Homo sapiens: one gene and its partners. The protein of the gene in region 1 purifies or fractionates together with the protein of each later gene. This does not show direct contact. Each region holds a gene or a part of one and is shown in the gene's direction. Other genes may lie near its edges.

Region 1 (3,171 bases):
GGATGCAGTGGTGTCCTTTGGCAAAGTCTTCCTCCCAGTCTTCTATAGCCTGATTTTTGTGTTGGGCCTCAGCGGGAACCTCCTTCTTCTCATGGTCTTGCTCCGTTACGTGCCTCGCAGGCGGATGGTTGAGATCTATCTGCTGAATCTGGCCATCTCCAACCTTCTGTTTCTGGTGACACTGCCCTTCTGGGGCATCTCCGTGGCCTGGCATTGGGTCTTCGGGAGTTTCTTGTGCAAGATGGTGAGCACTCTTTATACTATTAACTTTTACAGTGGCATCTTTTTCATTAGCTGCATGAGCCTGGACAAGTACCTGGAGATCGTTCATGCTCAGCCCTACCACAGGCTGAGGACCCGGGCCAAGAGCCTGCTCCTTGCTACCATAGTATGGGCTGTGTCCCTGGCCGTCTCCATCCCTGATATGGTCTTTGTACAGACACATGAAAATCCCAAGGGTGTGTGGAACTGCCACGCAGATTTCGGCGGGCATGGGACCATTTGGAAGCTCTTCCTCCGCTTCCAGCAGAACCTCCTAGGGTTTCTCCTTCCACTCCTTGCCATGATCTTCTTCTACTCCCGTATTGGTTGTGTCTTGGTGAGGCTGAGGCCCGCAGGCCAGGGCCGGGCTTTAAAAATAGCTGCAGCCTTGGTGGTGGCCTTCTTCGTGCTATGGTTCCCATACAATCTCACCTTGTTTCTGCATACGCTGTTGGACCTGCAAGTATTCGGGAACTGTGAGGTCAGCCAGCATCTAGACTACGCACTCCAGGTAACAGAGAGCATCGCCTTCCTTCACTGCTGCTTTTCCCCCATCCTGTATGCCTTCTCCAGTCACCGCTTCCGCCAGTACCTGAAGGCTTTCCTGGCTGCCGTGCTTGGATGGCACCTGGCACCTGGCACTGCCCAGGCCTCATTATCCAGCTGTTCTGAGAGCAGCATACTTACTGCCCAAGAGGAAATGACTGGCATGAATGACCTTGGAGAGAGGCAGTCTGAGAACTACCCTAACAAGGAGGATGTGGGGAATAAATCAGCCTGAGTGACCAAATTTTGGTCTGGTGGGAACAGATGGGAACCAGCTCAATTGGGTGTCCACTCAAAGTGCTCTCTCCAGGGGCCTCAGTGACTGTGTTGCTAAACCCAGTGGTCAGTTCTCAGTTCTCAGCCATCAGCAGCATTTGCTCGCCCCGCCTTCTTCCTCCACTTTCTTCACTTGCTTCCAGGATACCACGCTTTCTTTTCTGAATTGCTACAATCTTTCTTCCTTCCTTCCTTGCTTCCTTCCTTCCTTCCTTCCCTCTCTCCCTCCCTCCCTCCCTCGCTTCTTCCCTTCCTCCTTTCCTCCCTTCCTACTTTCCTTCCTTCCTTCTGACAGGGTCTTGCTCTATTGCTCTGTCACCCAGGCTGGAATGCAGTGGCGAGATCTCCGCTCACTGTAGCCTCCTCCCCCTGGGTTGAAGCAATTCTCATGCCTCAGCCTCCCAAGTAGCCAGGACTATAGGCACCTGCCACCATGCCTGGCTAATTTTTGTATTTTTTTTCTTTCTTTCTTTCTTTTCTTTTTTTTTTTTTTTTGAGACGGAGTCTCACTCTTGTTGCCCAGGCTGGACAACAATGGCGCGATCTCGGCTCACTGCAACCTCCACCTCCCGGATTCAAGCGATTCTCCTGCCTCAGCCTCCTGAGTAGCTGGAACTACATGCGCGTGCCACCACGCACAGCTAATTTTTATAATTTTAGTAGAGATGGGGTTTCACTGCGTTGGCCAGGATGATCTCGATCTCTTGACCTTGGGATCCACCCGCCTTGGCCTCCCAAAGTGCTGGGATTACAGGTGTGAGCCACCATGCCTGGCCCTAATTTTTGTGTTTTTATTAGAAACAGAGTTTCACCATGTTGGCCAGGCTGGAGAATTGCTGTAATAGTTTTCCAACTGGCCCCTGTCCTTCCTCTCTCTTGCTCTCCTCCCATCTCATCTGCACCTAGCAGCCAGAGTGATCCTGATACTCTCGGCCTTTACTTCCGCCTCCCTCAGAGCAGCAGCCTGTCAAAACACCAGATTACAACAAATTTAGTTTAAAGGTCTCAATTAGCGTTATTGGCAATTCTAGAATCAGGCAACAGACTCATTGAATCAGGAACAGATTCACTCCATAAAATACAGAGAGTGCTGCAATGAGCTGGGTAGAAGAGGTTAGTTTTATAGACAGGAAGGGGCTGTCAAAGGCAGAAAGAAATGAAGAACAAAAAAAAAGATTGATTTTTTTTTTTTTGAGACAGGATCTCACTCTGTCATCCAGGCTGAAGTCCAATCCCACAATCATGGCTCACTGCAGCCACCACCTCCTGAGCTCAAGTGATCCTCCCATCTAAGCCCCCAAGTAGCTAGGACTACAGGAGCACACCACCACACCTGGCTAATTTTTGTATTTTTTGTGGAGACAGGGTCTCAGTATGTTACCCAGGTTGGACTGGAAACCCTTGGCTCAAGCAATTTGCCTGCCTCAGCCTCCCAAAGTGCTGGGATTACAGGCGTGAGCCACTGCACAGGGCCAGATTCATCATTTCAAAGTTACTTTCTATATGCGGCCGGAACAGGGTGGTTGACATCAGTTTTCTTCAGGTTACTTTTTAATAATGATTAAAACGGGGAACTTCATTATCATGAGCATGGTTACTGTCTGCATTATTACGCCAACTGAAACTGTCATGTTTGGGAATTTGGCTGTTAACTCTGTCTCCAGGAGTCTCAAAGGTCAGATAACAACTTAGTTTTGGTTTGAGGACATGGAACTTTAATACGACAGATTCCATTTTGGTTTGGTCTGGTCAGCTGGGACCTAGTGCAGGAGGTTAGTCCAAAACAATGGCCTTCCATAGTTTTTACTTAACAAGCCCAACTCCTTACGGTAATCCTTTAAGGCCTATGTGATCTGCCCTCACCCTGGCTACACTCTTTGCCCTTATGTCCACCAGCCTCCAGTGCTCCAGACACAACTGATCTCAAATACTCCTGACACATCCCCCTGGGGATTCCTCTTCCTGGATTGCTCTCCTCTCAGCTGTCTGCTTGGCTCACTCTCTCACCTTCTGAGGTCTTAGCTCAGATACCACCTTTCACTCACCTGTCCAACCTATTTAACACAAACTGGCCCATCTCTGACGCTC
Region 2 (2,226 bases), about 10 Mb from region 1:
CCTGCACCTATCGCCAGTCCTGCTCGGGACATTTGCCCTCAGTGGTGGGGTTACTGCTGTTTCGGAGGTGAGACTCCCTGAGCCATCATGCCACATGCTTCTGCAGCTGCCCCGCTGTCTCTCCCGCTAGGCCTCCTCTTCCCAGGTTTTTGCCTCCTCCTGTCCCCTCCCCAGGCCTCTAGGGCAGCATCTTCTGATAATGTGACAAGAGAATGTTGCCAATGGGGAAACAATGGACCTGCAGTATGGCTGTTATGCCTTTTATCTGACTTAGAAGCTGGAACCACAGCTGTCTTCCCTGGCTGGTCCCAGAGGAAGGAGGTATAGACTGAGGAACAGGCACTGACAATGGTTTCTTTCCCCAGGTATTCCTCTGCTGTGAGCAGGGCTGGCCAGCCAGACTGGCACACATTGCTGTGGGGGCCTTCTGTCTGGGAGCAACTCTCGGGACAGCATTCCTCACAGAGACCAAGCTGATCCATTTCCTCAGGACTCAGTTAGGTGTGCCCAGACGCACTGACAAAATGACATGACTTCAGGGAAGCCTGGACACCCGAGGCACCTGGACCAGCTATGGGTAGTTCTGTGGGTGGAACACATTCTGTGTAAGAGCCCCACTGAGGGCTCTGCAGCGGAGTGACAGCAACCCCAGAGATGAGGCACCAGAGAGTGCCACTGCATGAGACACCTGTGACCATTCGAAGTCTGAAATGCGGGGGGGGAGTTTCATTTTTAAGTGAAGACCAAAAGCCCTTTAAAAATAATAGTTTTTTATCATTTTATAGTAATCAGCATTTTCTCTTTTACTAATATACTCATTCCTTTTGCGTATGATTGGCCTTTGGAGCTACATGCTCCAACAAACTATATCTTAATTGTTAACTGTTAATAATTATCTGGCCCAGAAAAAGAGATGCAGTGATTTTACCCTTCACAGGAATATTGAACTTCTTCTGTAAAAGAGAGAGAGAAACCTCTCTCTCTCATGCACCACATGGAAACAGAGTGTGGCCCTGAAGTTGTGGCTTTCTTTGTGTCAAAACTGTGGTCTGAGTTTTTAGAGAAGGAAAAATGCTACTCAGTGAGAAATCCAAGAAATGAAACCAGGAAGGTTTTCAGATCACATTTCCCAGAGTGAGTTCGGGAGAATCTTGCCTGTCGTGATCACACTGTTCCCCGCCGCCCCAGGTCAGCACATACTTGACCCAGAGTGGGCTCTCAGGATTTGTTGATTGAAGGGTGGGTGAAAGCTGGCTGGAGACTCCTGGCCTGGCCACCTGCAAGAGGCGGACTTTGAAGAAAACTGTGATCCAGTTGAGCCACTTTGTCCCTGAGGGGAATGCTGCTTTGCAGCTTTCTGTAACTTCTCACATGGGAATTGCACTGGTGACAGATAAGGTTTAACAGATGTACTTTTTTATCCTCAGAATAAGACAAGGCAAACTCTATATGGCTAGTATTACTGAGTCAGGTCCCTCCCGTTGACCCATTAATTCCAGCATTGATCAATACAACCAAATTCCAGCCCCAGGACAAGAGTGGCAGGCATGGGGGCCTGGTACTCCAGGCTACAGTGTGAGCCCAGGTGTTCTGCACCTTGCAGCCTGCACACTGCAGGTGAAATCATGAGCAGTGTTCTGGAGTGTGAAGTGTTTTTATTTTTTTGTTAATGTATTAATTCCTTTTAGATATTAACCCCCCTCAGAACTATATGCACAAACTATAACTTGGATGTTAATAATCCTGTCACTCAGTGCCCCAAACCTTCTGTGTCTACACCTAGAGAGAGGGCCAGTAAGGGCAACTCCTATCATGCATTAAAATGCATGTATTTAAATCTGCTTGCCCAGAGCCAGTACCCAGGGGCTAAGGATTAAGACCTGTCAGTACACCAAGACTGGGGCCCAGTCACCTGGCAGGTTTTTATCTACTCAGAGGGAGAATGCTTTGCACTAAGTGGGAGAAAAGCAGCTAAATGCAAGGTGTCCTGAGCAATTAGAGGACCTCCAAAGCATGGCCTCAGTCATGCCTTCATCGGGCAAGGTCAGGCCAGCTCAGAAAAATGGATGGTCCCATAGGGTCAAGTGGAGCACACACGGAAGGCAGTCCTCCTTCCCTCCCATGTCCTTTCTCTGTCCCTGGCATCCACAGAAAGGGACCTTCAGTCCTCATGAGCTGCTTCTCTGCAGCTGCTGATCACCCTCCCGGAACCCTGCACCTATCCCG
Region 3 (2,252 bases), on another chromosome or scaffold:
TTAGGTTTGATTTCTGATGACTCTGGCCTGAGTTCCAGGATGGTTTTTTCTTGGGACCAGACATGAACAAAAGTTGACCTCATGAGCACTTCAACCTCTCCAGCTGCCATGCTCCTCCGGAGGCTGCGGCGACTCTCCTGGGGCAGCACTGCTGTCCAGCTCTTCATCCTAACAGTGGTGACGTTTGGCCTGCTGGCCCCCCTGGCCTGTCACCGACTTCTACACTCTTACTTCTATCTGCGCCATTGGCATCTGAACCAAATGAGCCAAGAGTTCCTGCAGCAAAGCTTGAAAGAGGGTGAGGCTGCCCTCCACTATTTTGAGGAGCTTCCCTCTGCCAATGGCTCAGTGCCCATTGTCTGGCAGGCCACCCCCCGGCCCTGGCTGGTGATCACCATCATCACTGTGGACAGGCAGCCTGGCTTCCACTACGTCCTGCAGGTTGTGTCCCAGTTCCACCGGCTTCTTCAGCAATGTGGCCCCCAGTGCGAGGGGCACCAACTCTTCCTGTGCAACGTGGAGCGTAGTGTGAGCCATTTTGATGCCAAGTTGCTCTCCAAGTATGTCCCTGTGGCCAATCGCTATGAGGGCACTGAGGATGATTATGGTGATGACCCTTCGACCAACTCGTTTGAGAAAGAGAAGCAGGACTATGTCTATTGCCTGGAGTCATCCCTGCAGACCTACAACCCAGACTACGTCCTGATGGTAGAAGACGATGCTGTACCAGAAGAGCAGATCTTCCCAGTCTTGGAGCACCTTCTGCGGGCTCGCTTCTCTGAGCCACATCTCAGAGATGCCCTTTATCTCAAGCTGTATCACCCCGAGAGGCTCCAGCACTACATCAATCCAGAGCCCATGCGGATCCTGGAATGGGTTGGTGTAGGCATGTTGCTGGGGCCCTTACTAACCTGGATATACATGAGGTTTGCCAGCCGCCCAGGGTTTAGCTGGCCTGTAATGCTCTTCTTCTCCCTGTATAGCATGGGTCTGGTGGAGCTGGTGGGTCGGCACTATTTCCTGGAACTGCGGCGGCTGAGTCCTTCCCTGTACAGTGTGGTTCCTGCCTCTCAGTGTTGCACCCCAGCCATGCTCTTCCCGGCACCTGCGGCCCGCCGGACCCTCACCTACCTGTCCCAAGTGTACTGCCACAAGGGCTTTGGCAAGGACATGGCACTGTACTCGCTGTTGAGGGCCAAGGGAGAGAGGGCCTATGTAGTGGAGCCGAACCTCGTGAAACACATCGGGCTCTTCTCCAGTCTCCGGTACAACTTTCATCCCAGTCTCCTCTAGGGTGCCAAGAGATGCCTTTCTGAAGTTGGCCACTTCTTGAAGATTCAAATATTTATCTCTTTATTTAGACATGGTTGCCTGCAGGTATTTCACTGTTTACTGTTGTTAGAGATATAGGCACTGGGGCAGCTGAGGAACCTCAATATGTTAAGAGCCTTGGCTTTGGTAGCCTCCTGGCAGGAGCAGCAGTTTGCCACAGGTCCGGACCTCTCCCTCCACACAGCCACACTGCCTCATGCAGTCTGACCCACCCAGTGAGGGTGCATTTGAACACTGATTATATTCTCCATTTGTTTTTAAGCTCTGCTTTGTGTTAGAGCTTGTGACTGCCAAAAATTTTGTGCACAGTGATATGACTGTTTTAGGATCTTAAGGGTAGAATTTTGTGAAAGGTGAGATCCTTTGGAATTGAGTTCTTTCTCATTGGGTATGAAAATGGATGTATGTTTAGAATATATGCCCAACGAGGCAGGACCATGTGGATAGATTCCATTTGTTTCCTTGACCTGATGTAATAAAAACTGATAAAAGCCGTGCAGTGCCCGGCATCTTGGAGGCAGGTGATCTGGCTTTTCTGTTACCTGGGATTTTCTTTTCCTATATATCTGTAGTGCACTGATAATTGATATTGTTAGTGAGAACTTTAAGGCACGACAAGATCTGGAAGAGCTTGTGAACCATCAAAGTCAGATTGCTTATGTTGAGTAGTGATTTAACATTGAACATTTCTGTACTACTCTGACTCTTTGAAAATTGGACATTTCAGAATGATACAATATAGGGGAGCTCTTTACAAGTAGCATATCATTTTTCCTGACTTTCCTGGCTGACTGCTTACCTTCATTTCTTTTTCTTCTAGGTAGCATGATGTTATAGAAAAAAAAAAAAAAAAATCATGGACTGAAGTCAGAAGACCTGACCTTTTATTTCAGATCTCTGCCATGGCCTAACGACGTGAC
Region 4 (3,038 bases), on another chromosome or scaffold:
GGGAAAGCTCACACACACAATAATGCCAAAGAAAAGTTCTTTCTTCTCACCCTTTCAGGAATCTACTTGAAAATGGATCGGTTTATGTTGGATTAAATGCTGCTCTTTGTGGCCTCATAGCAAACAGTCTTTTTCGACGCATCTTGAATGTGACAAAGGCTCGCATAGCTGCTGGCTTACCAATGGCAGGGATACCTTTTCTTACAACAGACTTAACTTACAGATGTTTTGTAAGTTTTCCTTTGAATACAGGTAAATTCTACTTCACTATCACCAAAGAGTTTGCCTTAGTATATGTTATTTGCAGCTTTAGTCCATACTTATTAATATCAAGTAGCTGTATGCTGTAATGCAGTTAAGATTAAATCTTGCTAGCCTATATAATGTGGCAAATAATTCATATTAGTATGGTCTACCAACCAAGATGCACATACACAGCAGTTCTAAATACTTTTTCTTTAATTGAGATGGAGTTTTGCTCTTGTTGCCCAGGTTGGAGTGCCCTGGCGCAATCTTGGCTCACTGCAACCTCCACCTTCTGGGTTCAAGCAATTCTCCTGCCTCAGCCTCCTGAGTAGCTGGGATTACAGGTGCCCACCACCATGCCCGGCTAATTTTTTGTATTTTTAGTAGAGACAGGGTTTCACCATGTTGGCCAGGCTGGTCTCAAACTCCTGACCTCAGGTGATCCACCCGCCTTGTCTTCTCAAAGTGCTGGGATTACAGGCGTGAGCCACTGCACCCGGCAATACTTCCCTTTTTCTAACATATCTTTCTCACAGTGCTCATTTAGAGTAAGAAATATTTGGAAATCCATATATACATATATATGAAAATTATATATATGGAAATATTATATATATACAAATGTATATAAATAATATGTTGGCTACCTTAGATTTTTTATTTATATTTTATAGAGAAGTTCCTTAAAGGGGGAAAATATTTTTATGGGAATAACTCTTTATACAGTAAATCTCTTAAAGCACTAAATGCATATACATTTATCAAATACATGGAGATTTGATTTCCTTTTGAAAATCTACCATGTGTGCTGAATACTTTGAGTACAGTTAATCATAAAAAAAACTTTTGATTAATTATTTCAAATAAAAATATTACCATGGGTGCTAGGGAAGGCAGTCCATCTAAATTTTGTTAAGTGCTGCTCCAAATTTGTTTAAATTTGACGAGTATTTTGTTTTAATTCCCATGACCAGTGGAAACAATTTCTATGATCAAGGAAGACCTATCGCCCATTTAATTGAACAGACTGAGTGAAAATATTAGCCTAGGTCTGTTGATAAAAAACAAGGCAGAAAGCTAGCAGTAGCCCAAACCATGAGATTATTATATCTAAGTTGAGAACAAATTAGAGAACTTTTTTTCCTAAAATAGTTTTACCAATTATTCCTAGCTATTTTAAGTTACTCATAGATGTAATTATACCTTTTAACAGGCTTTGTACAATTACATTTGATATATTACCTGAAAAATACCTGTGATACACAAAAGAGGATCTTACATTCTTTAAATCATGTTTGCTTGACTATCATGACCTTCATTTCTATGACTAATTTATTTCCTAGGTGATTTGGATTGTGAAACCTGTACCATAACACGGAGTGGACTGACTGGTCTTGTTATTGGTGGTCTATACCCTGTTTTCTTGGCTATACCTGTAAATGGTGGTCTAGCAGCCAGGTAGGAAATAAAAAACTTTTTATAATATGTGATTACCTATAAAACTCACAACTTAAAGCAGCAAATATATTTTGTTTTTAAGGCATTTAGACCAAAGGCAATGTTACCCTCTTGATTAGAAGTTAGCAAGACCTGTTTTTTCTTATAATGAAATTCTACTTATCAAGAATTTCAAACAGTTATACTTGGTGTGTAGTTAGGCTATTAACCTTAATTTGTGTACTGAATACTAAACTAACTACAAAGCTGCAAACAGTATTATGCATGAAACTTCTATCATATAAACAATTATCTTGGATGAGTTTGAACACTTGCACTAAAGGAAAATTCCATCAGAAAATGTCTAGCTGTTATATTAGCCTTCTATTCTAAAATAATTCTGGCTATTCTCTGTTGAACTCTTGCATCAGCAATCTATGCTATAGCCTTGAAGCAAACTGGATAAAGAAACAAAAGTTTTTAGGATTAATAGACACTGAAGACCTTTACTTTAATATTCAGTTTTATCTTAAGACTTCTAGGACTAATATGTATCACAGATGGGTTTGCCATTTGATGCAACAATCTTTTCTATTGAACTATCTCAATGTTTTCTTACAGGTATCAATCAGCTCTGTTACCACACAAAGGGAACATCTTAAGTTACTGGATTAGAACTTCTAAGCCTGTCTTTAGAAAGATGTTATTTCCTATTTTGCTCCAGACTATGTTTTCAGCATACCTTGGGTCTGAACAATATAAACTACTTATAAAGGCCCTTCAGTTATCTGAACCTGGCAAAGAAATTCACTGATTTTAAACAAATATGTAAACAAAAATAAAATGGTAAAAACAGTTTATGTCTAATGTTATGTCTAATGTTATGCATAAACATAGACTTGTAATTTATCACGAGGTATAATTCTGGGACCTACAACAAAAGGCTACACAGGGCAACAAAAGGCTGAATCTAAGTAAAAGCTACCCACTTAAACAAGTTTAACTTCACGAGTTTGCCCAGTATTGTCTCTTCTACCTTGCTTGTTCTACCTTAGGCGTTGAGTTTGGTCTGTAACACAAGAGGAAAAAGTAACTATATAGTATTTTACACTGAAGACTTCATAATGACAAACAGGAATAAAAAATGAAAAAATATCTATCAATATACTATACCAAATGTTACTCACAATTCACTTTCTCAATTCAAATTATTAATCCATAGATTCTTAGAACTGATTTAACAACCTTCCTCAAATCAATCATCTTCTTGAGTCATTCAGGCTCAGCTTCAGCTATTATGATATAGACCTACCTACTTCGAGTCACCTTATTTAGAAAGCTGTATTTTTAGTTTA
Region 5 (3,500 bases), about 10 Mb from region 1:
TCGTCAGTAGACCCATAAAGAAAATACTCACTTCAGCAGATTGTTAATAAATGTGCGTTTTTAAGTTAAAATGTTTAAGGTACACATGTGTTATCTTGTGTTCCATATTATTTGTATGCATCTTGTCTGATATGAGCTTTTGCATCTTGTCTGATAAGAGCTTCTGCTGCATCTCTCAGTGATTGCCACTCTTCTCTATTGCTGCTCCCTAGTCGCTATTATTTGCCCTGATTTCCTACATCAGCTTCCCAGTTGGATGTCCGCCCCAAGGTTTGCCTTACCTCTGGTCCCTTCTCCATATTGTAGCCAGTGAGAACTACTGAAAGCATACACCTGATCATTGTCAACCTTTACTTTAAAATCCAGACTCTTAATTAACGAGGACATTTAGATCTGGCCTCAGCTTACCTCTCTAGCCTCATATACTAATTTTTGTGCTGCCATTCTCTTCCCTTAAACTCTATACTTAAGCCATGTTGATTTGACTCACTTTGACAGTTAAGTTGGAGGTCGGGGTGTGTGTTGTCTGTATGTTGGGTCAGAGGGCAGGTGCCATGCTCCCTCATTTCTGGCCTTTCTATATACTGCTTCTCTGCTGGGAATTTCTTTCCTTAATCTTTCATCCCCCAAACTGACTCTGTTCTTCAGGTCTCAGCTTTCTCCTTCAGGAAGCCTTTCCTGACCCCGCAGTTGAGCGTCTCTCCTGTGTGCTTTTATAACAATATTATATATTTCCCCTTTGCTGGCATTAGTACACGATAGGTTAATTAATTCTTTATTTACCTGTATTTCCTTCAAGGCGGCCAAACTGTAAGTTCTGTGTAGATAAGGTTTATTCATTAATCTTGTTTGCCATAGTCTCCTCATTGTAAATATTTGAGTAAACGTATTATTCAGAAACAGCTTTCTAAATACTGTAGATTCTCTGAAAAAACACTTAAGTAAAATGTTTTGCTTCATTTGTAGTTGCTGTCTCTGCTGGCCTTCATCTGTGAAGAAGTTGTATCACAATGTACTTTATGTGGAGGACTTTATTTTTTTGAGTTTGTAAGCTGCAGTGCCTTTCTTCTGAGTCTCCTTATACTGATTGTGTATTGCACTCCATTTTATGAGAGAGTTGATACCACAAAAGTAAAATCATCGGTAAGCATGAGAAAATATCATCCCTGTATTAATAGCTGTTTTGTAATCTGGCATAATTTTATTGTTCAAAGCAGTAATGTTTTCAAAACTCAGCAACATGAAAAGACAGTATCCCTTGTTCCAACTCGCTCTGCTTCTAAGCACCTCATTTTTTCCTACCAAGGGGATGGTAGAGAGGGAAAGTGAGATTAGAATGAGAGTGACAGACACTGCCAATAGTTTACAGTTATTGGTGGTTTAATGTAATTCACATTAGACTTAAAAAAGCCTAGGATTTTGTCACTTCTGATTTCTCACTTTTGAGTGTCACTCATTGGTTCTACAATTATTAATTGTGTGCCTTTATTATATGCCAGGCATTTATATGCTAGACATTGGAGATAGAGTAATGAACTAATGTGAAATATTTCTGGAGCTTTAAAATAAAACAACATTTAAAGCTTAAAGCTTCAGTGATTGGGGAAAATAAAACAACATGTAATTCTTCCTATATTTTGCTTTAATGGTATTATGAAAAGTTGTCTATAAGTGAATTAAGAATGCATTTGTTCCTGTGTTAGTTTGCTAGGAGCAGAATCCTGTTAGAACCAATGCCCTACCATCTTGAGGTGCTGTCATGGCTAATGCCATCACTATAGGAATTTCTATGACAATGACAACAGGACTCATTTGTTTTATGAAATATATATTAAGAGGATACAGATAATCCTTAGAATTTTTGTTAATTATATTTGTAGTCTTTGGACATTTTTCTTTTTTACAGATTAATATGCCATAAGATTTGGACTAGGGAAAAGTTCTCAAGTGTCTGAGCTGGTTGATTTATAGTTTGAATGTGTAAAAAAAAATGTATATATTCCAAATTCTGGCTGGAAAAATTTATATTAAAAAAATTACAGATTGAAATCATTTTGTCATTTCTTAACAGTGAAACAATATCACCATAAAAATATTTTTAGAAATGTTTAGTTTTTATTTTAATGCTGCATCTGTAGTGTTTAAAGCACACTGATCATTTTGACAAGAAATGGTATTATAATATTGTCCAGTGTAGTATAATGGTGTAACGTAAAAAAAGTAAAACCTTTATTATATCAAACTTGAGCATTTAAAAAGTCATTTTAGAGTAAATACTGGTTTAAAAATACTGAGAAAAAAGAAAAATTAGTCCATCCTAAAATAGCTTTTGTATTATTTTGCTGTATTCCTTTCAAGTCTTTTTATTCCATTCATAGTTTTAAAATTTAAAATATTTGTAATCATAGAACATATATTCTACTTTTTACCTAATATAAGGATTTCATGTTTGTTTGCAGGGTTTCAAAATCACTTTTTACTGTCTGCATATTAATACACTTAGGTTTTAAATATTTTTTCATGCAAGAGAGGTTTTCTGTTTTAGAGGAATGTGTTTTGAGTGTGTGGTACTGGTGGTGCCTAAAGAAGAATAACTTTTTTTTTTTTTTTGAGAAGTCTTGCTGTGTTACCCAGGCTGGAGTGCAGTGGCGCAATAGCAGCTCACTGCATCTTCCACCTCCCGGGTTCAAACGATTCTCCTGCTTCAGCCTCCCGAATAGCTGGGATTACAGGCGTGTGCCACCACACCCAGCAAATTTTTGTACTTTTAGTAGAGATGGGGTTTCGCCATATTGGCCAGGCTGGTCTCAAACTCCTGACCTCAGGTGATCCGCCCACCTCGGCCTCCCAAAGGAATAATATTTTTTAAGAGAGAATGTCTTCTATCCCATGCTATTGCAGTCGGAGTCTATTAAGAACAACAGTAGCCAACATTTTTGGGACGTTTACATTTATTAGTGGTATAGCTCAGATTTGAACTCAGGTAGACTGGCTCTAGAACCCGTTTATTGAACACTACATTATGGTCTAAAAATGATTGTCTTGTTTCAATTAACTTGAATGTATTCCAAATATTAGTAAATAGAATTTTATATTTATATGTAATAAATTTGAAATAATCAAAAGGATTAAAAAATAAAGTACTACAGGGAAACACCTTTTAGAAGCAGAGAAAACCTCTTTTTTTTTTTTTCTTTTTTGAGACAGAGTTTCGTTCTTGTCACCCAGGCTGGAGTGCAATGGCACGATCTCGGCTCACTGCAACCTTGTGCTTCCTGGGTTTAAGTGATTCTCCTGCCTCAGCCTCCCAAGTAGCTGGGATTACAGGTGCCTGCCACCACACCCAGCTAATTTTTGTATTTTTAATAGAGATAGGGTTTCACCATGTTGGCCATGGTGTTCTTGAACTCCTGACCTCAGGTGATCCACCTGTCTTGGCCTCCCAAAGTGCTGGGATTACAGGTGTGAACCACCGTGCCCGGCAAGAAAACCTCTTACAT
Region 6 (3,500 bases), on another chromosome or scaffold:
GTTCATTTTCAACCTTCTTTCTTTGAAAAGGCTGGAAGAGAAGCTTTATTCCACCCTACTTCAGCTTCTTCATGCATCCAGCCTGGCTCTGGTCCCTCTTCTTTTTCTTTGAAACCTACTAGCTTCAATGATCCCATGTACTACCGTAGTACATTGGTAGTGTACTTCCAACTACCATAGATCCCATAGGGACAGCACTTCCAACTACCATAGCCTGCTTCTGGCCCAAGAGCCCAACATGATCATGGAGTCGGCCTCGTGCACTGTTTTGAGTTTCTGTTTTGATTCTTGGAAATGTCTGTCTTGTTTTTGAGCTTATATCCTTTTTTGTTTTTTTCTTTTTCTTTTTTTTTTTCTTTTTTTTTTTGAGATAGAGTCTCACTCTGTCACCCAGGCTGGAGTGCAGTGGTGTGATCTTGACTCATTGCAACCTCTGACTCCTGGGTTCAAGTGATTCTGCTGCCTCAGCCTCCCAAGTAGCTGGGATTGCTGGCCTGCACCATCACACCTAGCTAATTTTTGTATTTTTAGTACATTGTGTTTTTACAACCTACTAAATTATTATTTATCTGCTAAATTATTAAATCTACTAGATTTTTATTTAGTAGATTGTATTTTTAGTTTCACCATGTTGGCCAGGCTGGTCTTGAACTCCTGACTTCAAGTAATCTGCCCGCCTTGGCCTCGCAATGTGCTGGGATTACAGGTGTGAGCCGCCGCACCTGGCCTTGTTTTTTCATTTTAAAAATACCCGTCTTTTTTTGGAATGGAGAAGATACATCATCACTAATACAGTTTTATCATTTTTCTTCCCTTCATCGAAACCTTTAATGGATGGCTCCCCATTGCCTATAAAATGACTACATTTTGCAGCAAGGTTTATAAAACTCTTTACAACTGGTCCCAGTTTACCTTTTGCTGCCTTATGTCAAAACACCACTACTATATGGTATTATATGCAGTCTCAGACTATATTTGTTCTTTAAATATACCACACATTTTCACAGCTGTTTTGTTCATGTTATTTCCTCTACCTAGAAGGCTTTTTACTTTGTTCTGGAAAATACATACTTATCCTTCTAGTCTGGCTGAGAGGGATAGTTCTCTACTTATCCTTCTAGTCTGGCTGAGAGGGATAGTTCTCTATGTAGCTTGTCAACTCCCTCTCCCCTGCAAGGTGGTTACCCATTTGATGGCAGAAAACATCTTACTCATGTTTCTGTCTGCTGTGTTTTCCATAGGCCTGTCAAATAATAAGTGCTTAGTAAATGTATATTTTAGCATAGAGCAGGGGCTAGCAAATTTTTTTCTTAAAGAGTCAGGTAGTAAATTTTTTCTCTATTATAACTACCCAACTCTGCGAGGTGGTGCAGAGGCAGCTGTAGACAATATGTAAATGAGTGGATGTGGCTGTGTTCCAATAAAACTTTATTAACAGAAAAAGCTGGTGGCCAGATTTGGCCCATGTGCTATATTTTGCTGACCAAGGCATAGAGTAAGCAAAGAATATGATCCAAGTATTTACTAATTATTTTGTTTACTCTTTTATTGAATTAGGAAGGTATAGATTTAATAATAGTTCTGCTCTGAAATTTTTATAATTGCTCTTATGGAATGCTCTTTTTTTCATGTAAGTATTGGATGTAGTTTACTTTAAATAATGGTATATCAGAAGCTAGTAGGGAATTGTTGAATGAACAGTTATTAGTCTGTCTCTAGGGATGATCACCACTCAAGTCAGATTTTTATTTATTAATTATGCCTAGAATTTATCCAAATTATTTTATCAATACAATAATAAAATAGTCCATCTTGAAATAGTTTTTAAAATTACAGATAATCTTAAAATTAGTCAATGTTTGCTTTACTAAGGCAAATATGTCTTTCAGATATATGTTATTACTGTTACTTTATCTGTCTCATTAAACACTTTGTTATTAACAAATTCTTTGAAAAATGTTAACTAGCAGGTTTTGGGGAAGTTCAATTCTATGTTTATTGGATGGAGCTTTGCCTTGAAGCATCTGAACTTTTGAGTTATTTTTATTTTGGAGTGAGCATCTAGGGTACCTGATTGTGAAGCTAGATTTCAATCTTGTATGAGGGATGGTATATTTTTTTGTGTGAGTTAATTTAAATTTTTAAGTTTTTTTCCAATGCCTTCATTCCGAAAATGATACATGAATGTAGCAATAAAAGAAAATTGGAGTCCATGAAAAAATAGTAAAGCAATAGGAAAATACAGGTGAGGAAAGATAGAAAACAAAGAAGATGGCAATATGTAAAAAGGAAGTCCTGTAAGGCATATTTTACTGATGTGTTGTAAGGAAAAGTATATATGAAGTATGTTTAGAATTTAGAGTATGTGTAGAGTTGTTCCAGATGGGCAGCCAGAGAAGGCTGTGTGGAGGAAATATTCAATCTAGTCTTTTTTAAGATGTGAGTATGGAAACAAAAGAGCCTTCCCACTTCAGACTATGGTGGAGGCATGGAAACCTGTGCAGGACACAGCATGAACTATGAGGACACTTAATGACTTTCCAAGTGCTGTACAAATATAATGTAATATTGACCAGGATTGAAGTGCCTAAAAGTAAATGACCCAATGAAATTCTTACTAAGTTCATTAAACAAATATTAGGCAATATTTTTGTTTAATTTCTGCATCCTGTAAATTAATTCTGAGGACTCTGTTTTGGCAGTGACTGTTGAAGTGAAGGGTCCCTATGAATACCTCACACTTGAAGACTATCCCTTGATGATTGTAAGTGACTTTATATTATTTAACCTCAGTATTGGATGGTTTTGGGTTCAAAGATTGTCCCATGTTTTGTGGCAGTATTCTTTTTAATGAATTGTTCCTGTGCAATTCAGAAAATGTTGCTTGTAGTCCTGGATTTATTTCTTATTAGACTGGGACTTTGAGAGAGTCAGTATACCCTTGTGTGCCTCATTTTCTTATCCATATAATGAAGGGGTCAGTGACCTGTGGAAATACCTCAAAGATCATCTCACATTCTCTCTAGGATGCATAGTGGGGCACTTTTTACTACAACTCTATTGTTTCTGATCCCACTTACATTAACTAAATGAGGCTGGGTGCCCTGGCTCATGCCTGTAATCCCAACATTTTGGGAAGCTGAGGCGGGCAGATCACTTGAGGTCAGGAGTTTGAGACCAGCCTGGCCAACATGGTGAAACCCCATCTCTACTAAAAATACAAAAATTAGCTGGGCGTGGTGGTAGGCGCCTGTAGTCCCAGCTACTCGGGAGGCTAAAGCAGAATTGCTTGAACCCAGGAGACAGAGGCTTCTGTGAGCTGAGATCTTGCCACTGCACTCCAGCCTGGGCGACAGAGTGAAACTGTCTCAACAACAAAAAATTAACAAAATGATGAAGCTCCCTTCTCTTCATTTTGTGTGTGTATGTGTGTATGTGTGCACATACATGTATGTGTGCATACGTCTGTGTCTCAGAATATCCTTAATATATTTTCAATT
Region 7 (3,500 bases), on another chromosome or scaffold:
TAGAGAGCGTCTGAGCGGGAGGGGTAGTGGCCTGAGCCAGGTCAGGGCTTTCGGGACACAGAGAGGAGGGCATGGGGCAAAGACTCAGGGGGCAGGAAGGCAGAGCTTGGGGCTTGATGAGGGTGATGAGGGAGAGAGGGGGTGCCGCCATCGGTGGATGGCTCCGGGACGTATGCTCTGCTGACTGGGACACAGTGGGGCTGTCCCTGAGATGGAGAGCTCAGGAGGGCAAGCAGGTTTGGGAAATGTCGCTGAGTGCAATGTGGGAATCTGTGCATATGAGCGGCCTAGGGGGACCGAGGGGCATGTGGGGACTGAGATTGGGAAAGGTCTGGACTAATGTCCAGAATCTGAGAGGTCCGAGTTGTAGCTGGTAATTGAAACTGGAAGTAGGTAAGACGTCACAGGGAAAACAACGTGTAAAGTCAGGGGAGTTGCAAACTGGCAATTCTATAGCCAATTGTGTGCGTGTGTTTGTGTGTGTGTGTGTTTAGAAGAGCATTTAAAAATATCTGTCTTCTGTCTCTCTCTCTTTTTTTTTTTTTTTTTTTTTTGAGACAGGGTCTTGCTCTGTTGTCCAGGCTGGAGTGGCACGATCATGGTTCACTGCAGCCTTGACCTGCTGGGCTCAAGCGATCCTCCCACATGAGCCTCCGGAGTAGCTGGGACCACAGGCATGCACCACCATGCCTGGCTAATTTTAAAATTTTTTGTAGAAACCGGGTCTCCCTTTGATACCAGACCAGGCTGGTATCCAACTCCTGGACTCAAGTGAGCCTCCCACCTCACTCTGCCTGCCAAAGTGCTGGAATTACAGGCGAGAGCCACCATACCCGGCTACCTCTTTTTTTTTTTTGAGACGGAGTCTCGCTCTATCACCCAGGCTGGAGTGCAGTAGTGCGATCTCGGCTCACTTCAACCTCTGCCTCCTGGGTTCAAGCGATTCTCCTGCCTCAGCCCCCCGAGTAGCTGGGATTACAGGCACCCACCATCACGCCTGGCTAATTTTTGTACTTTTAGTAGAGACAAGGTTTCACCATGTTGGCCAGGCTGATCTCGAACTCCTGACCTCAAGTGATCTGCCCACCTGGGCCTCCCAACGTGCTGGGATTACAGGTGTGAGCCACTGCTCCTGGCCCTGGCTACTTCTTTCTGTTGAGTTACTTGACTGGCCTCTGCACACATTGGGTTTGAGAATCATGTAGGGAAGGCTTGCACTGGGAACACCTACACTCAAGGGAGGTGAAAAGCAAGAGAAAGCCACAAACAAGTCAGGCATGAAGCAGCCGGGGCGGGGAGGAAGGCCAGAGGGGCAGGGGTATCCTGCCAAGGAGAGGGTTTCCAGAATGAGAGCCTTTCAGCTGTAGCCAGGGCCACTTGTGATACAGTCAGATGAAACCTGAATAAGGGCCGTTGTATATGGAGCCAGGCAGGAAATTGATGATTTTTATCAAGAACAATTTCAGGCCAGGCACAGTGACTCACAGCTGTAATCCCAGCAGTTTGAGAGGCCGAGGTGGGCTGATCACTTGAGGTCAGGAGTTTGAGACCAGCCTGGCCAATGTGGTAAAACCCCATCTCTACTAAAAATACAAAAACTAGCCAGGTACTGTGGCACATGCCTGTAATCCCAGCTACTCAGGATGCTGAGGCACGAGAGTCGCTTGAGCCCAGGTGGCAGAGGTTGCAGTGAGCTGAGATCGTACCACTGCATTCTAGCCTGGGAGACAGAGCGAGACTCCATCTCAAAACAAAACAAAACAAACAAACAAACAAAAAAACAATTTATTTCAGTTTCTGTGGCTCCACCGAGGAAAGAGTGTAGGAGGCAAGCTGTGCAGAAGGAATGGCTCCTAGCACTGAATGTCAGAATTTTCCACGATTTTGGAAACGTTCTATGTCTACATCCAATATGGCAGTCCTGGCCACAGGGGGCTACTGGGCACTTGGAATATGGCCATTGTACCTGAGAAACTGAATTTTTTTTTGAGGTGGAGTCTCGCTCTGTCGCCCAGGCTGGAGTGCAGTGGTGCAATCTTGGCTCACTGCAACCTCCGCCTCCCGGGTTCATGCCATTCTCCTGCCTCAGCCTCCCGAGTAGCTGGGACTACAGGCACCCGCCACCATGCCAAGCTGATTTTTGTATTTTTAGTAGAAACAGGGTTTCACCATGTTGGCCAGGCTGGTCTCAAAGTCCTGACCTCAGGTGATCCGCCCACCTTGGCCTCCCTAAGTTCTGGGATTACAGGCATGAACCACTGCACTTGACCTGAATTTTTTATTTGATTTAATTTTAACTTATTAGAACAGAAAGAGCTCCATGGCTACAAAGAACCCATGCAGCTATCACATTGGACAGTACAAGCTCCAGACTATTCCGTGAAGAGCTTTTATTTTATTATTATTATTTTTTTTTTTTTTTGAGGCAGAGTCTCATTCTGTTGCCCAGGCTGGAGTGCAGTGGCACAATCTCTGCTCATCACAACCTCCGTCTCCCAGGTTCAAGTGATTCTCCTGCCTCAGCCTCCTGAGTAGCTGGGACTACAGGCGCGTACCACCATGCCCGGCTAATTTTTGTATTTTTAGTAGAGATAAGGTTTCACTATGTTGGCCAGGCTGGTCTCGAACTCCTGACCTCATGATCCGCCCGCCTTGGCCTCCCAAAGTGCTGGGATTACAGTCATGAGCCACCATGCCCGGCCTTATTTCTTATTTTTAGTGACATGGTCTTGCTCTGTTGCCTAGCCTGAACTGCAGTGGTGTGATCATGGCTTATTGCAGCCTTGAACTCCTGAGCTCAAGTGATCCTCCTGCTACAGCCTCCTGAGTAGCTGGAACCACAGGCGTGCACCACCACACCTGGCTAATTAAAACAATTTTTTTTGTAGGGATGGGGTCTCGCTCTATTGCCCAGGCTGTTCTCAAACTCCTGGGCTCAAGCAGTCCTTCTGCCTTGACCTCCCAAAGTGCTTGGATTGTGCCCAGCCGTCCTTGAAGTTTTGCTCAGAAGAGCAAACTTTCTGGGAAGTAGCTGCAGGTGTTGGAAGTAGCTGCAGGGGAACTAGGGGATTCAAGGATGGAGCTGAAATGGGTGAACGGACAAAGTCGGTAAACTGAGGCATGCCAGGGCCCTGGAGGTAGACTCAGGAATGAAGAAGACACTTTATTGTAGTTCTCACTGTGCCAGGACCTGGCCTAAGTGTGTTTGGTTCATCCCATGTGTGGATCAGTTAGCCGTTCTTTTAGTGTCTTTACGGCTTTTGCCAAATCCTTGTAGCACCTCTGCTATCCCTTCTGTAAAATTGCTCTTAAATCTGCTCACTAGGTTTGTGTAAATACAGGTCTCCCCTGATATCTGAACTCCTGGAATCTGGAACAAAGAATTTAGATACATTTTTCTCCTTCTTTCTTCCTTTCTCTTTCTTTTCTTTTCTTTTCTCTCTCTCTTTCTTTCTTTCTCTCTTTCTCTTTCTTTCTCTCTCTTTCCCTCCCTCCCTCCC

What was found.
Region 2: the proteins of ACKR2 (region 1) and RFT1 purify together in Homo sapiens (affinity purification with mass spectrometry; one large-scale study listed by BioGRID and IntAct). This does not show direct contact.
Region 3: the proteins of ACKR2 (region 1) and PGAP4 purify together in Homo sapiens (affinity purification with mass spectrometry; one large-scale study listed by BioGRID and IntAct). This does not show direct contact.
Region 4: the proteins of ACKR2 (region 1) and TMEM126A purify together in Homo sapiens (affinity purification with mass spectrometry; one large-scale study listed by BioGRID and IntAct). This does not show direct contact.
Region 5: the proteins of ACKR2 (region 1) and CMTM6 purify together in Homo sapiens (affinity purification with mass spectrometry; one large-scale study listed by BioGRID and IntAct). This does not show direct contact.
Region 6: the proteins of ACKR2 (region 1) and TMEM87A purify together in Homo sapiens (affinity purification with mass spectrometry; one large-scale study listed by BioGRID and IntAct). This does not show direct contact.
Region 7: the proteins of ACKR2 (region 1) and TRPM4 purify together in Homo sapiens (affinity purification with mass spectrometry; one large-scale study listed by BioGRID and IntAct). This does not show direct contact.

What each region holds. Positions count from the first base shown.
Region 1 is NC_000003.12:42,864,616-42,867,786, forward strand, and holds the end of ACKR2 (atypical chemokine receptor 2), read left to right. Parts: coding exon 1-1,042; 3' UTR 1,043-2,671; downstream 2,672-3,171.
Region 2 is NC_000003.12:53,090,210-53,092,435, reverse strand, and holds part of RFT1 (man(5)GlcNAc(2)-PP-dolichol translocation protein RFT1), read left to right. Parts: coding exon 1-67; intron 68-365; coding exon 366-533; 3' UTR 534-2,226.
Region 3 is NC_000009.12:101,474,922-101,477,173, reverse strand, and holds part of PGAP4 (GPI-N-acetylgalactosamine transferase PGAP4), read left to right. Parts: intron 1-4; 5' UTR 5-81; coding exon 82-1,293; 3' UTR 1,294-2,252. UniProt on the Homo sapiens protein: Golgi-resident glycosylphosphatidylinositol (GPI)-N-acetylgalactosamine transferase that catalyzes the N-acetyl-beta-D-galactosamine transfer from an UDP-N-acetyl-alpha-D-galactosamine to the 4-OH-position of the first mannose of the glycosylphosphatidylinositol (GPI) of a GPI-anchored protein (GPI-AP).
Region 4 is NC_000011.10:85,654,005-85,657,042, forward strand, and holds the end of TMEM126A (transmembrane protein 126A), read left to right. Parts: intron 1-58; coding exon 59-252; intron 253-1,589; coding exon 1,590-1,704; intron 1,705-2,304; coding exon 2,305-2,497; 3' UTR 2,498-2,538; downstream 2,539-3,038. UniProt on the Homo sapiens protein: Protein required for the cotranslational protein quality control in the inner membrane of the mitochondria.
Region 5 is NC_000003.12:32,489,353-32,492,852, reverse strand, and holds part of CMTM6 (CKLF-like MARVEL transmembrane domain-containing protein 6), read left to right. Parts: intron 1-966; coding exon 967-1,143; intron 1,144-3,500. UniProt on the Homo sapiens protein: Master regulator of recycling and plasma membrane expression of PD-L1/CD274, an immune inhibitory ligand critical for immune tolerance to self and antitumor immunity.
Region 6 is NC_000015.10:42,238,934-42,242,433, reverse strand, and holds part of TMEM87A (transmembrane protein 87A isoform 1 precursor), read left to right. Parts: intron 1-2,702; coding exon 2,703-2,764; intron 2,765-3,500. UniProt on the Homo sapiens protein: Potential monoatomic ion channel gated by mechanical force, implicated in normal touch sensitivity through the generation of mechanically activated currents.
Region 7 is NC_000019.10:49,160,792-49,164,291, forward strand, and holds part of TRPM4 (transient receptor potential cation channel subfamily M member 4), read left to right. Parts: intron 1-3,500. UniProt on the Homo sapiens protein: Calcium-activated selective cation channel that mediates membrane depolarization. While it is activated by increase in intracellular Ca(2+), it is impermeable to it.